2 separate regions of the Homo sapiens genome follow, and region 1 is linked to region 2. Evidence: fine-mapped expression QTL. A gene starts in region 2. The other region holds a variant in brackets. All regions are shown on one strand. Distances are from middle to middle. Region 1 overlaps C3AR1 (complement C3a receptor 1). Region 2 holds the start of FOXJ2 (forkhead box J2).

Region 1 (5,375 bases), 25 kb after region 2:
AAGAGAAACGTGAAAGAATTTAGTCTCAGTTCGTCTTTATTCCTCTTCCACCTTCCACCACTGGGTTGAATTAGTTGACCCTGACACGTTTTGTGACCTTGGTGGGAAAGAAGAATCAAAGGCACGTCCTTAACGTGCCTCTTTTCAAATGCTATCAAGTATGATGACATATTGCGGGAGAGTCAGTCACCCCTTGTAGGTTGGTATATGGAGTAGGCCCACCTTGCTTGCATTTTAGGATAGTTTAAAGATTTAAGATATTATACTTTGGGGCTGGGCGTGGTGGCTCATGCCTATAATCCCAGCAGTTTGGGAGGCCGAGGCAGGCAGATCACCTGAGGTCAGGAGTTCGAGCTCAGCCTGACCAACATGGTAAAACCCCGTCTCTACTAAAAACACAAAATTAGCCGGGCGTGGTGGTGCATGCCTGTTATCCCAGCTACTCTGGAGGCTGAGGCAGGAGAATCGTTTGAACCTGGAAGGCGGAGGTTATAGTAAGCCAAGACTGCACTGTTGCACTCCAGCCTGGGTGACAAGAACGAAACTCTCTCTCAAAAAGAAAAGATATTGGTTGGGCGCGGTGGGTCACACCTGTAATCCCAGCACTTTGGGAGGCCGAGGTGGGCAGATCACAAGGTCAGGAGTTCGAGACCAGCCTGGCCAACATGGTGAAACCTCATCTCTACTATAAATACAAAAATTAGCCGGGTGTGGTGGCAGGCGCCTGTAATCCCAGCTACTTGAGAGGCTGAGGCAGAAGAATTGCTTGAACCCGAGAGGTGGAGGTTGCAGTGAGCTGAGATCGTGCCAAGTGTGCCACTGTGCTCTAGCCTGGGCTACAGAGTGATACTTCATCTCAAAAAAAAAAAGAAAAGATATTATACTTTGGACAGGAGCTGTGTTCCCATCTGGGACTTCCTGGAGAAGATACAGTACAAAATAGTTACAGGTACTCACCAGGTTTTCATCAGAAATGAGGGAGCTCTAATTGTAGGAATTTCTTCAGAATACATTTCCAAAGCAAATGGAAAAGAAAAGGAGTCCAGAAATGCTGATTACTCGTTGTACATTAAATCTTTATAACTGCGTCAAGATTATTCACCTTGATATCCTATACACTAACCCCAGGAGTTTAGGTCTTATTCCCAGGGTCTTATGGGATGTGCTGGGGTTTCTGGAAGCCTGGCTAATTGCTATTATAGCAAGTCTATAGTCACTCACTAGGAGACTTATTTGCTGCATATTTAGAGATGTGATATATTCTGAATGTGAAACAAAAGGATTCATAAATCTCTGAGCCTCGCAAGGACCCATGAGAAAAAAAGCATTTATTCATATCAAATATATAAGCAAATTAATATATAAGCTGGAAAGGTAGCACTTCAAATCTTATGTCAGACATTCTTCACAACTGAAAGAATTCCTAGTGATTTGTAATTTTTCTGCATATACTTTATAAAAAATCTGTAGTCCAGACCCTCACCTCAGCCATTGAACAGATAGTGTCTTGCAGGTCTAAAACACATGTCATTTTCTGTTTTTAGACTACATCATTGTATTTGGTTTAGATGAGGCCACGTTGTGATACAAACAAGCCAGAAATTTCAGACGTTTGACACAAACATTTATATATACAGAAAAATGAGAAGGTGGTAGGGAGTTAGGTAATTTTGTTTTAAATGAAAAAGGGACAGAAGGAAAGCTATATAAATGGTTGGAGTGTATAGACAAAGTAGAAGAAAAATATGTGGTCATGAATGAATTAAAATATGGTTATTAATGAATGTTGGGATGCTGGATAAACAAATTAAAAATATGGGGTGCTTGGATAAACATCTTCATCTTTCAAAACAAGAAGTCGTTTTATCATGCCTCCAGAAAAGAGCAGCATAAGCACATGATTTAGAAACATCATGATAATTATCAAAGGAAACATCTAAAATTGTGCAAGGATTATCTCTGGGAAATGAGAGTGGGAGGAGGGAACTTTTGGGCACAGTGAGGTAGGAGACCTCATATTTCATTATATACCTTATTAAATTATTTTAAAACTATGTGCATGTATTACTTTGGCAAAGAAAAGGATTTAAAAAACCCAGAAGATATATTTGGTAATTTTGGCATGTAAGTTGCCTGTCGTCATGTTTTAAAATGTGATGGCAAGCCTGGTAGGGTACTCAGTTGCAGAGAGTAGAAGAATTGCTGCTCCATCCTCCACCCTCTTTCTCCTTCCACTTGAAATACTTTCTTAGAAAGTATTCATTTGGAGCAAGAGGAAGGGAGTAACTAGAATCTTACGAAATTAGAGGTTGTTTGAGGCACAAAGTCTGATGTGGAAGATTTGGAGGCTGGGGAGTAATAAGGAAATTAAGGAGCTTAGGAAGAGGAGTGGAAAATAGGTGCCCAACCGGTAGGCAGTTAGAAGAAACAGAACTCCCCAAACCACAGCTTTCATAACATTTCATGAGTCAGTTTTCAC[A/G]CAATAGATGCTTATTTAGTTGTAATAGTGGAAACTCTATGTAATAGTGGAAATTTCTATATCCTGTACCCAGGGGTGTTCCCAGGGACAGGCATCATTGCATAACCCTATGCTCCAGACTCAGTCTCATGGCTTCTTGTCTTCACAGGCATTTTCTTTTTGCACTTTCTTTTCGTTTAAAACCATCAACACCACACGACAACAAAGCATTAGGATATATGATCATCTTTCACTCACGTAGGAGAACAAGAAATGGTTTTAAATGGAATCTGGAAGACTTAGACAATGCTAAGGAAAAATTTAATGATGGAAATATCGACAAATATTCAACATCATTTAAAAACAAAGTAGCTTCTCTTATTTCACATAGCTTAGTTTGGGATAGAAATAGAACTAATGTTTACAATGATTCTTACATTTAGCATTAATCAGAAACGAGGGTTTGTTAAGTGCCCTTGCTGGGTCCCAACCCCCAGAGATTCCGATTCAGCAAGTCTGGGATGCGGCTTGAGAATTTGCATTTCTAACAAGTTTCTAGGTGATGCTGATGTCAATAGTCTGTGTACCGTTTGAGAACCGCTGGATTGATTCTTTGACAGTTTTTGAAGTCCGCTGCTCACCATATCACTTCATCCTCTTATAAACTTTCACTATGTGATTGCCTAAGAGCCCCTGCTTGTTGGCTGCTCCACATTTTCACACAGTTGTACTATTTCTTTCTGAAATGACATTGTTTGAGGGACAGTGGGTGGAACGTGTGAGCTCCTCACTGAAGGCTGCCTCCAGAATTCCCTGAATGGACTGCCTTGCTTTCTTCCTAAAATCTTTCCCCAAGAGGGCATAAAGGAAGGGATTAAAGCAACTATTGGCAGATGCTAGAGCAATGCATACATGATCCCAGGACATCAGAGTTTTCCCCAAGGGAGTTTCTGGGTCAGTAAGCAATGACAGGACTCCAAAAATGTGGTATGGAGTCCAGCAGACAAGAAAGACAGCCACCACCACCACGGCCACTCGAAAGGTTTTGCTCTGAGACTTGGCGAAGCGGCCCCTTTGCATTCGGAAGACAATGAAGCTGTAACAGGCTATCATGATAACAGAGGGCAGCAGGAAACCCACCACTAGCCTAGTGATCGTTATTGCCACGAGGGGTGTTGGCACTTGATCGTCATCTGTGAATTGGCCTAAATTGTAATAATCCTGGAAACCTTGTGGTAGCTCAGACTCGTAGAAGGAATTGCTAGAAGCGCTAGGGAACAGCTTTAAATGAGTAGAGAGAAAAGCATCAGAGTTATCCAGTGGGCTGGTTTCGTGATCTTCAATAGGAAACCCACTGGGGATTTTAGGTGAGACCACATCAGCAGGTTTAAATACATTAGAATACAGATTTTGACTTGTTAACCTAGCAGAACCCCTAGGGAGTGAATCTGCAGAAGGTCTTTGAAATGTTTGAGGTTGGAAGACAGTGGGGACTGTCCAAGGATGATCATTTGTTTGGAAAGAGGAAGGATCTAACCTATCATTCATTTCTCCAGGCGGCTGAACAATGTTTTCAAGAGACCTGTTTTCTAGTGGATCTCCATAAAAGTCTGGATAATCTAATGAGCTGGAGAGACCAAATTTGTAGCCACATCTATTATGGTTGTCTGTAGTGAAGATTTCCCGGTACACGAACACAGGAATGCACATCACAAAAGCCACCACCCAGATACATCCACAGATAGAGCAGGCCATCCCTACATTGCGATGATTCTGACACCAGATTGGCTTGAATACCACAAGACAGCGATCCAGGCTAATGGCAGTAAGCAGGAAGACACTGGCAAACATGTTGAGGACAATGATGGAGGGGATGAGCTTGCATAGGAACCTGCCGTAGGGCCACTGTCCCTGGAGAGCCAAGTGAGCCAGCGAGAAGGGCAAGGAGAGGCAGCAGAGGAGGTCCGCCAAGGTGAGGTGGAGGAACCAAATTGTGTTCACTGTCCGCTGCATCTTCAGGCCAGCCACCCACAGCACCAGCCCATTGCCTGGCAATCCCAGTAAAAAAGTAAGGCTGAGAATGACCATGGAGAGAATTACTGGGGGCTCATTCCATGGCTGTGAGAGTAGGTCAGTTGAATTGGTCTCAGCAGAGAAAGACGCCATTGCTAAACTTCTGCAAAAAGATGAAAAAAATGTTAAAACAAACAGTATCTTTTTGAAAATGCATACATATTCTTAGGATTCTAATCTTCCCACATAAAGATGTGGGATCATGAAACCAGAAGGTCCTCACGCTGTTTTAGTTTGCCTTCCTTCACCTCACACGGGACCACATAAAAGCATTCTCTGATAGACAATTATATTTATTTATTAATTTATTAATTATTTTTCAGACAGAGTCTTCCTCTGTCGCGCAGGCTGGAGTGCAGTGGATTGATTTCAGCTCACTGTAAGCTCCGCCTCCCGAGTTCAAGCGATTCTCCTGCCTCAGCCTCCAGAGTAGCTGGGATTACAGGCGTGCACCACCACGCCTGGCTAATTTTTGTATTTTTAGTAGAGACGGGGTTTTGCCATGTTGGCCAGGCTGGTCTTGAACTCCTGACCTCGGGTGATCTGCCTGCCTTGGCCTCCCAAAGTGCTGGGATTATAGGCATGAGCCACCATGCCCATCCTATGATAGACAATTTAAAATCTACTGTATTGATTTATGTGTGTATCAAAATCACAGCCTCATCTGGAAGTCCATATTAGTGTAAATTTCTCCTCTTTCTTGTACTTTCAATCTTGGTTTTTCCACTGGCTCCTTTCTTCACCCAGTGTGTTTAAAAATAAACAAATAAGCTAAATAAGTAAACACACAAAAATATCTGGACTGGAGGTCTCCAACCTGAGGTCACGAAAGGGTTTTAGGAAG
Region 2 (5,375 bases):
TAGGAAGTGTGAGCAGGAAGAACAGGCTTGTTTTGGTTTACTGCCTTTAATTTTGAGGATGACTTTAAATTCTGATCGCTCCGGACAATGGTATAGAAGTCAAGAGCTGGGCATCGGAGTCATTTGGATTTAAGTCCTGACTCTGCTACTTACTAATTAAGCGAACTCACACATAGTATCTGTAAGTCACAATTTTCTCATCTGTAAAAGAAGTATAATAATAGTGTCTTAGGGAATCGCTAGAATCATCAATGTGACAACACATGCAGAATGCTCAGTGCAATGCCTGGCATATTGTAAATATAATTATTCATATAATATATACATACAACTTAAGTATGCAGTCTTTTGGGGGCAATTCAAATATTTTGCAAGCAATATTTTTGTATTCGTATTATCTTTTTTTTTTTTTTTTTTTGAGACGGTGTCTCACTGTCTCCCAGGCTGGAGTGCAGCGGCACGATCTGGGCTTACTGCAACCTCCGTCTCCCAGTTTCAAGTGATTCTCCTGCCTCAGCCTCCCAGGTAGCTGGGATTACAGGCACGCACTACCACGCCTGGCTAATTCTTTTTTTTTTTTTTTTTTTTTAGACGGAACCTGGCTCTGTCGCCCAGGCTGGAGTGGAGTGGCGCGGTCTCGGCTCACTGCAACCACCGCTTTCCGGGTTCAAGCGATTCTCCTGCCTTAGCCGGCACTACAGGCGTCCGCCACCGCGCCGGGCTAATTTTTGTATTTTTAGTAGAGACAGGGGTTTCACCACGTTGGCCAGGCTGGTCTCCAATTCCTGACTTCAAGTGATCCCCCCGCCTCGGCCTCCCAAAGCTTTGGGATTACGGGCGTGAGCCACTGCGCCTGGCCTCCTATTATCTTATGTGCTATAAAGTAGAGAGTAGGCCGGGCCGTGTTTCCTGCCTGTAATCCCAGCACTTTGGAGGCATAAAAAGGGAGAATAGTTTAAACCCAGGAATTAAAGACCAGCCTCGGCAGCATACTGAGACCCTGCCTCTATTTAAAAAGAAGAAAAAGATAAAGAAAGAAAGGAAAGAAAGTAGGGTAGTTTGATAAAAGTTTAAAAAGCCTGAGTATGGGCCGGGCGCGGTGGCTCACACCTGTAATCCCAGCACTTTGGGAGGCCGAGGAAGGTGGATCACGAGGTCAGGAGTTCGAGACCAGCCTGGCCAACTTGGTGAAACCCCATCTCTACTAAAAATACAAAAATTAGCCGGGCGTGGTGGCGCGCGCCTGTAATCCCAGCTGCTCCGGAGGCTGAGGCATCCCAGCTGCTGGGGAGGCTGAGACAGAAGAATCGCTTGAACCCGGGAGGCGTAGGTTGCAGTGGGCCCAGATCGTGCCATTGCACTCCAGCCTGGGCAATAAGTGAAACAACACCTCAAAAAAAAAAAAAAAAAAAAAAAAAAAGCCAGAGTATGAAATATATGAGAATTTGCAGCAGAATAATATGACTTCAGGATGTGACAGCTGTAAAGGGTAAGCAGGCCAAGTATCAAGGTCCCTTCTTCGCTGAGCAAGATTGCGGAGAACAAGGGCCATGCACAAGTTTAGGAAGCTGAAACAAGGAACAGGACCCAGATCTTCTGATGTTTATTTCACCGTTACACGCTCATTTATCATGTATCCACTCATTCAAGGAGCATTTACTGAATTCCAGGATGATATAAGGGTAACATATAAACTTCACCCCAATCTTCACCTCAATGCTCATGATCCTTTATAAATTATCTCGAGGGAAAGAGAAGCCCATCAAAGACAGTCCTGAGAAAGCTGGGGCTGTTCATCTGTATACGGAGTTTAACAGAATGAAACGCCGGAGTTGGGGTGTCAGCTGGAATTGACGGTATACGGTGCGCACTAGGGACTCTCCCGACGGGGAGCAGTGAGTTGTCATCCCGGGTAGACGGCGAACTCCCGGAGCCACGCGGCCGCAGGTGGGCGAGGGCGGCGAGATCCCTCGCCGGCGTGAGAGCGGCCGTGGCTCTCCAGGCGGAGCGCACACCGGGTAGCGAGGCTCGCGGCTCGGCGCTGCCCGCGGCTCGGCGTCTCCCGGCTCCTCCTTAACCCGCGCCGGGAGGCGGTGGCGGCAGCGGCCGGCGGGCGGGGGAGGGGGAGGGGCGCGGAGCGCGGCGCGGAGGCCGGGGAGGAGCCGGGGCCTGCAGCGGAGCCGAGCCGAGCCCGAGCCCGCGCCGAGCCCTGACACTGTCTGCCCGCCTTCTGGCTCCCCGGGAGCCCAGACTGGTCGGAGCCCGAGCGGTGGCAGCGCGGGGAGCCCCACGCGCCGAAGGGAGCGGACCCGACAGGACGGCCCTAGAGGAGGTGCTGCCGCCACAGTAGCAGGGACCGGAGTCTCGAGCCGCGGCCTCCCGGACCGTGCTGCCCAGGCCAGCTCAGGGACAGCCGGGAGTACGAAAGCCCCACCCTCTGGGGCACCCCGGGAGCGGAGGCGGGAGCGGGGACGCGAGCAACCTCTCCCCCTGTTGGAGAGAAAAGACCCTTACCACTCGGGTGAGGGAAAGAAGAGACCCCTGGAGGGGACGCCTCTCTCCTGCCTAGAGGCGAGGAAGACCCCTGTACTGGCCGGGGAGGAGACCCCCAGAAGTGGAAAGAAGGGAGCTTTCCGTAGGGAAGCAGAGTGAGACCACCCTAGCGCGCCCCCGCCCCTCCAAACACACACTCTCAACAGTTCAGGACTTTGGAGGCAAAGAGAGACGGGGCTGTGCCTGTGGAGTAGGCACCCTCGGCCCACCACTATTCACAGGAGACAGGAGTCCTTACGTTCAGAAGCCACTCCAGGGAAAGAAGAGGAATCGGCTTTCAGCCTTCTGGAGAGGGGAAGACCTCCCCCTCAACTTCCTCGTGCCTAGACAGTGGAACGGGGTGGAGCCCCTCCGCTCCTATCTCCAGCAGACAGAAAGAGCCCTCCACCTCAGAAAGATCCAGTTTGGGGGGGAGGGGAACTCCCCCAAGGGGGAGGAGACAACTCCTGGTTGGGAGAGGCTCCTCCCCTCCTCCCCCGGGTAACAAGCAGGGTGTGGGGGGTGTGCCACCTTCCCCAAGTAGGACCTCCTTCTCCTCCCCCTCCCCCTCCTCCAACCTTGACTCCTCATCCTCAGGGGACCCAGTTCCCCTCACCAACTTGGGAGGCTCAGCCTCGTCCAGGAAGAGCCACTGAGGATGAGAGCCGTCACCTGCCTCTGAAGAGGGGAATCCCTCCAACCCCAAACTCCAGTACCAGGTGGTTCCCTCCCTTTGCCGGAGGAACCTTGGAGACAGGTTAGTGCTTTCTTTCATCTTCTCTCTGTCATTGTCTGGCACTAGTGGGTGTAGGGGGTTGAGCTGGTGGATCGTGGGTTTCACTGCCGGGGAAGACAGAGTGATGACTCAGAAAATCCAATGGGAAATGTGATCCAAGGGAGCTCCTGGATTTGAACCCACATCTTGCTGCAGAAGCTCTGAGAAATGGGTTTCTTAGTGTTTGGGGACTAAAGGGATGGGATTCATTTTAGGTCCCTTAGGGAAGTGGATGTTTTCATGCTGAGGAAAAGGGTTATCGGAAAACAGCTGCATTTTGAGAACATGCATACTGTGTAGCAGTGATTTACACAACCCAACCAGTGGTAAGATTCCCATACCACCCTTCACCCTTGGGCCTTTTCCCCTGGAGAGTGGGCTGTCATGAAAATCACGGTGGCATCTGGGGTCCTGGCCTTGCCCAGGGCATGCCGAGGTCAGCTTAGTGTTCACCAGAGGTGTTCCCTCCAGCTTACTGCAATTATAGCTCCCTTGACAAGAAAAGCAATCTGTTCCTGCTCATCCTATCTCAGATACCAAGAGGCCTCCTCTCCTGACATTTCCATTCCTAGCTGGATGTATGCCTCTGCCCATAAAATCCAAAGGGAAAATGGGAATCCCACATGTTCTGAGGCGAGAAGAAAGTGTGCAGGGGAATGCCAACTCCCGGGTTAAAGTGCTTCCTTGATGCTGGCCCTGAACCACTGCCCCAGTCCCCTTCTCGACTCCTGTTTTTTGCTCACAATTCTTCAGGAAAAATTAGATCCTGGATACGAAGGGAGGAGGGCTGCTGCTCCGCTTCTGTCCAGACTTCCAGTTAAACAAGTTGACCACTGGAGAGATTTCACTTCTGAGGAGTATATAAAGTTTCCTTCCAGAAAAGTACCTAATAGTCTCATCCTCTCCCTTCCTGTTTCTTGTTCAGTTCTGAGTCCCTCGAACCTTGTGTTAAAGTTTTCCTTCATAAGCTAGGGAATTATCAAAGTCCAGAATCTTCAGAAAAGGCAGGAAAAGGGTACCAGGAAATCCTCCCCTGAAGCCTAGGCTGTTTTTAGGAGAGGTCACTAGCTGGTTGTCTGCTTTCCTGCCTCACCATTAGCAGATACCTTATCTTCTGTCTCACAGCAAGGACAAGTTGTGAAGGAGGCTTCATCTGACTTGGCCTTTCATATTTCCTCCTCTCTCTGGGGCATGGGTGAGGTCTACCTAAATTCCTGAGTACAGTCATTTGTCCTGGAAGCTACTGGTGGTATATGAGATAGGGCACAGGTTTGTGTGGCTGTGCTATAGGACAACATGCATATACTTCTTAATTCATGTGAATGTGGCTCTCTGTTTCAAGTGGGTATGTGTGTGGAGACAGGTACTTATGTGCTTTTCAGACTATACTCCAGTTACCTAGAATTGTATGTTTCTGGTGGGCCTCTAGAAGCAGGTGCCTCTGTACAAGGACATGGATAGGTGGTGGTAAGGATGGCCACCTGAGGGGAAAGGCTTGGCCTCCCCCCAGTCAATGGGAGCCCTCGTGACGGTCTACAGGACAGTCCTTTAAGCAGCAGGGCAACCCAGTCTCAGGCTGGGATCATTTCTTCTAGGACTAATAAGAGAGCTTCATTGCTGATACCTCTGGTCTCAGAAGGATGAGGATCCTTGACTCCTAACTCCAGAACTCCTTCCCCTACCTTTTACAAAAGAGGCCTCGCTGGTTAACAGCAGCCTGTTTCTTATAAAGTACTTCACCAGATGCTGGCGTGCACCTGCCTGAATGGCTCAGGGTGAACTATATCACAACATCTCCAAGTACACCACCGCCACGCAGTTTAACTGGCCCTGCTTGGACTGAGTTCCCTAACCCTGCTTGCTTCTCTGGAATCAGTTAGAAGTAGGTGGCTACTGAGTGGGATTAACTGTGGTTTAGAGAGTGTGCTTTCCCAGACCATGTCTTATGACTACACCTAGTTCCCCCGGGAAGATAAGAGATGATAGTTCCTCATTCCTTCATCCTTAGAGTCTTCCTGATCCTAGCATTAGCCAGTACTGGGTGATATTATCTCTAAAGGAAAAGTTT

The links. PIP is the estimated chance that this variant, and not a neighbour inherited with it, causes the effect.
Region 1: its variant is fine-mapped to the expression of FOXJ2 in whole blood (TOPMed, PIP above 0.99). The same link has a PIP of 0.9 or more in monocytes, monocytes after LPS, monocytes after Pam3CSK4 and monocytes after R848.

What each region holds. Positions count from the first base shown.
Region 1 is chr12:8,055,562-8,060,936 of GRCh38, forward strand. It overlaps C3AR1 (complement C3a receptor 1), which reads right to left. Exons shown (of 2, transcript NM_004054.4): 2 at 1,283-4,634. The coding sequence starts at 4,624. The coding sequence ends at 3,176. Among named protein-coding and RNA genes, the nearest start is that of C3AR1, 8.1 kb to the right of the region's middle. The variant A/G (reference allele first, on the strand shown) is at 2,480.
Region 2 is chr12:8,030,545-8,035,919 of GRCh38, forward strand. It overlaps FOXJ2 (forkhead box J2), which reads left to right and starts at 2,172. Exons shown (of 11, transcript NM_018416.3): 1 at 2,172-3,289. RefSeq lists silencers at 1,857-2,006, 2,027-2,266.